Regions from separate parts of the Homo sapiens genome. Here region 1 is linked to region 2. Evidence: fine-mapped expression QTL. Tissue or cell type: whole blood. Region 2 holds a variant in brackets; the other region holds the start of a gene. All regions are shown on one strand. Distances are from middle to middle. Region 1 holds the start of EIF4B (eukaryotic translation initiation factor 4B). Region 2 overlaps EIF4B (eukaryotic translation initiation factor 4B).

Region 1 (2,810 bases), 26 kb after region 2:
ACATGCACAAAAGTGCTTGGTCAACTGTCAAGCGTTACACCAATGAAAGATGTTCAAATGCACCTCAAATTTCTCAACATTTTCCAAAGCCAACCAAAACCCTTAGCTTCTTTGTAATAGAGACGATGAATTACTAGGTAAGAAATGAGCACCCAGAGATAGAAGTTCAAATAATGTTTTGAAGAATGCAAGGTCATGCCAGAGAAAACAAACTATATTCCTCAAACTAAAATCAATGCTACAAGATGTTGGGTCATCACTGCTTTTATAAGCCCATTAGAAATGTAATTAGACTTGCAAGGCACTGATACTCCCCTCCAAGGTTGTCTAAAGAAGTAAGCAACTCCAGCCATTAGTAAGCACTATTTTAAAAGTACCTGCTGGTAGTTGCACAGTTACCTTAAAAAAAAAAAAAAAAAAAAAAAAAAAAGGCTGAAATCTACCATTGGAGCTATCCAAATTCAACCAACATGGAAGCGCCGGAAGCGAAACCTGATCCTGGCATATAGCTGCGCTGAGTAAAAAATGCCTCCAATTGAGTATGAGAAAAAAGCCTAGAAGGAAATCTAGGTGCACACCGGTGCTTCTCCAACACGTGGGCGCACCTAACTGGATTCCCCACCCCCATCTAACGCCAATAGCACCAACCTCCAAGGCTAACACACACACCCTTAGAAGAATACAGGCACAGGGCCCACACTCTAGAAAGGGAAGAGACAACCTAAAAGGACATAAGTGCGCAACACAGGCGCGTTAAAAAGCTTCCCATCTGGGTTCTAGCGCACGCATTGAAGGCGCGCCCGTCTCTACTACCCTCGTGTCTCCTACCGCGCACGCGCACCGCTGCCTTCCCCCGCCCCTCCACCAACTCGCGCTCGCGTTCCAACTGCTCCCCCCCACCACACTTACTCCCCTACCCCCCACTCCGGTCCGCTACAGCCTCGCGCCTTGGAGACGTAGTCTAATGTGCACTCGTCCGCGCAGCAACCGCCTCCTTCCTTCCTCCACGCCTTCACGCGGGCACGGTGATTCACGTCTACGAAAAGGCCTCGCACCACCCGCACACCTTTCTGCGCCTCCTTCCCCAATTCAAGCCAGAGTCTACCATTACTGCCTATTCCAATCTCGCGCAGAAAGGGTGAAAAGAGTGTGAGGGGGAGGGGAAGGTGTCCTTCCCCTCCCCCCCAAACATCCAGAGGCAGTAACCTAACAGGGCCACGCCGCCAGCCTGCCGCAGCCCTCAATTCAGAAAGGAACCAGTGCCAGCAATTCCCCGACTTCAGGAAATCAGTGGATCACGCTCGGAGGGGGGTTTCAGAGCCCAGTCCTTGGCCGCGCTCGGCTGCTCGCTCACCTGAGGCCGCCATGTTGGGAGAGGGAAAGAGAACGCAAAAGACCCGGATGAGGCAATCACGTGATTATAGCGGGCGCGTCGAGCTAGGAGACGCGAAGCTGGGAGGGGGCGGGGAGGTGAGGACGGAGACAGGAGGCGGGGCGGCGCTGCTCTAGGTTCGTAAAGCTGCGCGGCGAGGTGGCACGCCGTCCGACGGGAAGACATGCGCGACATGTGGCCAAAGGGGCGGGGCCTGGGTTGTCGCGAAACCCCTCACGCTTTACGTAGGGCTACACGCGAGCGCGGGGCTGGAGCTGAGTCCTGGCCGGCCTCCTGACGCACAGACTTCCTGCCGGAAGAGTGGCGGGAAGGGCGGGGCTTCGCTGCTGCTTCTGCTTACTCTGCACGGAGCCGGTGATGGGTGTGGCGAAATGGATGTGCTGAAAGGGAAGATTCTGAGTTTAATGTACTTTTTTGAGACGGAGTTTCGCTCCTGTTGTCCGGGCTGGAGTGCAATGGCGTGCGCGACCTCGGCTCATTGCAACCCCCGCCTCTCGGGTTCAGGCGATTCACCTGCCTCAGCCTCTGGAGTAGCTGGGATTACAGGCGCCCACCACCATTCGCTGCTAGTTTTTTGTATTTTTAGTAGAAACGGGATATTTCACCATATTGGCCATGCTGGTCTTGAACTCCTGGTCTCAGGCTATCCACCCGCCTCGGCCTCCCAAAGTGCTGGATTATAGGCGTGAGCCACCGCGCCCGGCCTAGTTTTTAAAAGCCACATCAGAAATCACTGATTTTATTTTTATTTATTTTTATTTTTTGAGACGGGGTCTCGCCCTGTCTCCCAAGCTGGAGTGCAGTGGCGCGATCTCGGCTCACTGCAGCCTCAACCTCCGGGGCTCAAGCAGTTCTTCCACCTCAGCCTCCTGAGTAGCTGGGACCACAGGCGAGTGCCTCCAGGACCAGCTAATTAAAAAAAAGTCTTTGTGTGGAGACAGAGTGGCGGGCTTGGGGGGGGCGGTGTGTCTCCCTGTGTCGCCTGGGCTGGTCTCGAACTCCTGGACTCAAGCATTCCTCCCTCCGAGGCCTCCCACAGTGCCGGGATTACAGGCATCAACCACTGTTTGTTTTCAAATTACTTTTTGTAAAGGCAAAACAAATCGAACGTCTTGTGTAAGAATGGTTTTAATGAGGCATATTTAGACGGAATAAGAAGGTAACAAATGCTGAACACTTAATTGTCATGGGCTTTTACCTCATTTAATGGTCCAATTTGCTGACTAGGTTTAGTCCAACTTAGGCCTTTAGGATTTCTGAGACTAGGGCTATTCATGCTTCCCCTAGCTGATGTTCCATTTCATTCATTAAATGAAAATTTTTGTTTCCCACCGTGTGCCAGGCACAGACACTTGCGGGTACAACATGGAATAGAACTGTCCCAAAAGAGGTTATATTCTAGTGGGGGAAGGACAGA
Region 2 (2,810 bases):
AGCCTTTTAGATACAATACCAGCTTTTAATAGTAAACACTTTTGTAATGGACAGGGAACAACTCTTCATTGTGTAAAACTGTCCCTAACACTGCATACTGCCTAACACCCCTGGCCACAGCCCACTAAATGCCCATCAGTGACAACCACTAATGTGATAACGACACAAATTTCCCAAATGCCCCTGGGGATGTAATGCCCCCATTACGAACCACCGGATTCCTAGATGGGATATCCATCAAGACAACACACCTCTCCCGAGGCCGTCGTTCTAGTTTTGGCTCATCCAGCTGACGCTGCAACTTCTCTTGTTCCTTCTGTAGCCGTTCTTCTACTTCTCTTTCTCTAGCAGCTGTGTCAACAGGCTTTGCCCCTCCAAAGATAGAAGCAGCTCGAGTGGACTGGGAGGTACTAGCAGAGGAATCATCTTCCTTAGGAGTACTCCGAGGCTTTAGATTCAGTTTGGGTCTTTGGGGGGGACCTAAGTTAAATGAAACTTTAAGTAATAGTTTTCCAATCACCAGAAGCTGATGGCTGAAAGCCAGATTTCTCAGATATAACTCCTATGAAATGCTACATGAGATTCAAGTTAGTGGCCTAACCAATCCACAGAAGGCAAATAGATCATTAGAAAACAGGTAGTTTAGGCTGGGCATGGTGGCTCACGCCTGTAATCCCAGCACTTTGGGAGGCCGAGGCGGGTGGATCACAAGGCCAAGAGATCGAGACTATCCTGGACAACATGGTGAAACCCCGTCTCTACTAAAAATACAAAAATTAGCTGGGCGTTGGGGCGCGCACCTGTAGTCCCAGCTACTCAGGAGGCTGAGGCAAGAGAATTGCTTGAACCTGGGAGGCAGAGGTTGCAGTGAGCCAAGATCGAGCTACTGCACTTCAGCCTGGTGACAGAGCAAGGCTCCGTCTCAAAAATAAAAAAAAGAAAAAAAAAAAAGAAAATAGGTAGCTCAGGCTGGGCGTGGTGGCTCACGTCTGTAATCCCGATACTTTGGGAGGCCGAGGCGGGTGGATCACCTGGGGTCGGGAGTTCGAGACCAACACAACCAACATGGAGAAACCCCGTCTCTAGTAAAAATAAAAAATTAGCCAGGCATGGTGGTGCATGCCTATAATCCCAGCTACTCGGGAGGCTGAGGCAGGAGAATCGCTTGAACCTGGGAGGCAGAGGTTGTGGTGAGCCAGGATCGCACCACTGCACTCCAGCCCTCCAGGCTGGAAAACAAAAGCAAAACTACGCCTAAAATAAATAAATAAAAATAAATAAAAATAAAAATAGGTGGCATAAATAACCAAGTTCTGGCCGGGCGCAATGGCTCACGCCTGTAATCCCAGCACTTTGGGGGGCTGAGGCGGGCGGATCACCTGAG[A/G]TCAGGAGTTCGAGACCAGCCTGACCAATATGGAGAAACCCCATCTCTACTAAAAATACAAAATTAGCCAGGAGTGGTGGCACATGCCTGTAGTCCCAGCTACTCAGGAGACTGAGGCAGGAGAATCGCTTGAACCCACCGGGGAGGCGGAGGTTGCAGTGAGCTGAGAACACACCACTGCACTCCAAACTGGGCAACAAGTGCCAAACTCCATCTCAAAAAAAAAAAAAAACAAAAAAACCCAAGTTCAATTACTCTTCTACCACATCCATGATGTAGTACAAGACCACAGGAAAGACTAAAAATGGTAAACATTTAAGTAATAAATTAATAATCTATCAAGACTTCTTTTATATGGGAAGAAATTTTTGACCATCATTAAACTACTGGATGAAAGTATCTTGCTCCGAAATCTGCATGTTAAGAACTAATACAATATGATAGGGAAGATTCTAGTTCTTTATTTTTTTTGAGACAGTCTCGCTCTGTCACCCAGGCTGGAGGGCAGTGGTGTGATCTCAACTCACTGCAACCTCTGCCTCCCTGATTTTCCTGCCTCAGCTTCCTCAGTAGCTGGGAGTATAGGCACGTGGCACCATGCCCAACTAATTTTTGTATTTTTAGTAGAGATGGGGCTTCACCATGTTGGCCAGGCTGGTCTTGAACTCCCGACCTCAAGTGATCCGCTTGCCTTGGCTTCCCAAAGTGCTGTTACAGATGTGAGCCACCACGCCCAGCCAGGAAGACTCTAGATCTTATACCCTTGTCTCTGTGTATAATATAAATTTGGCAGGTGGTTCATGGGGCAAAGCATGTAACACTGAACAAATAAACTCTTAAGGCAGGCAGTCTGATTTCTTCCTCAATTCAAGTTGTCAGAACACTTTCAAGAGAAACCTAAGTGTTTCAAGGAAGTTAAATTTCTAAAAATGATTGTTTGTCCTAAATATTTTGGATATACAAAAGATACAGAGAATATAAAGAAAGCCTATGTATACAATCACCTGGCTTAAGTAATGTAACCTTAACAAAGAGGTAAAACCTCCTGATGACATGACCAGCTGTACTCTGTCCTCTAAATAACCACTAGATGGTGACTTCATCATGCCCACACTTGATTTTATACTTTTACTACATATGCACATAGTACCTGTAGATAGAGGGTACTGTTTAACAAGATCTAAATTTTCTACGAGGGCTTTAAGCCGACAGTTTATATATGTTCCTAAACATATTTTAAATCTGTGTTATAGCCCCGTCACTTTTGTAAGATAAAATAGGGGCTCAGAAAAAGTAGCTCATTTAAGATATTAATAAAAGAACGCAGCCGGGCACAGTGGCTCACGCCTGTAATCCCAGCACTTTGGTAGGCCGAGGGCAAGTGGATCACTTGAACTTGGAAGTTTAAAACCAGCCTGGGCAATGT

Evidence for each region.
Region 1: it holds the start of EIF4B, and the variant in region 2 is fine-mapped to the expression of EIF4B in whole blood (INTERVAL, PIP above 0.99).

The regions. Positions count from the first base shown.
Region 1 is chr12:53,005,041-53,007,850 of GRCh38, reverse strand. It overlaps EIF4B (eukaryotic translation initiation factor 4B), which reads right to left and starts at 1,395. Exons shown (of 15, transcript NM_001417.7): 1 at 1,355-1,395. The coding sequence starts at 1,367. RefSeq lists enhancers at 537-1,280, 1,281-2,024.
Region 2 is chr12:53,031,476-53,034,285 of GRCh38, reverse strand. It overlaps EIF4B (eukaryotic translation initiation factor 4B), which reads right to left. Exons shown (of 15, transcript NM_001417.7): 9 at 252-480. Among named protein-coding and RNA genes, the nearest start is that of TNS2, 17 kb to the left of the region's middle. The variant A/G (reference allele first, on the strand shown) is at 1,385.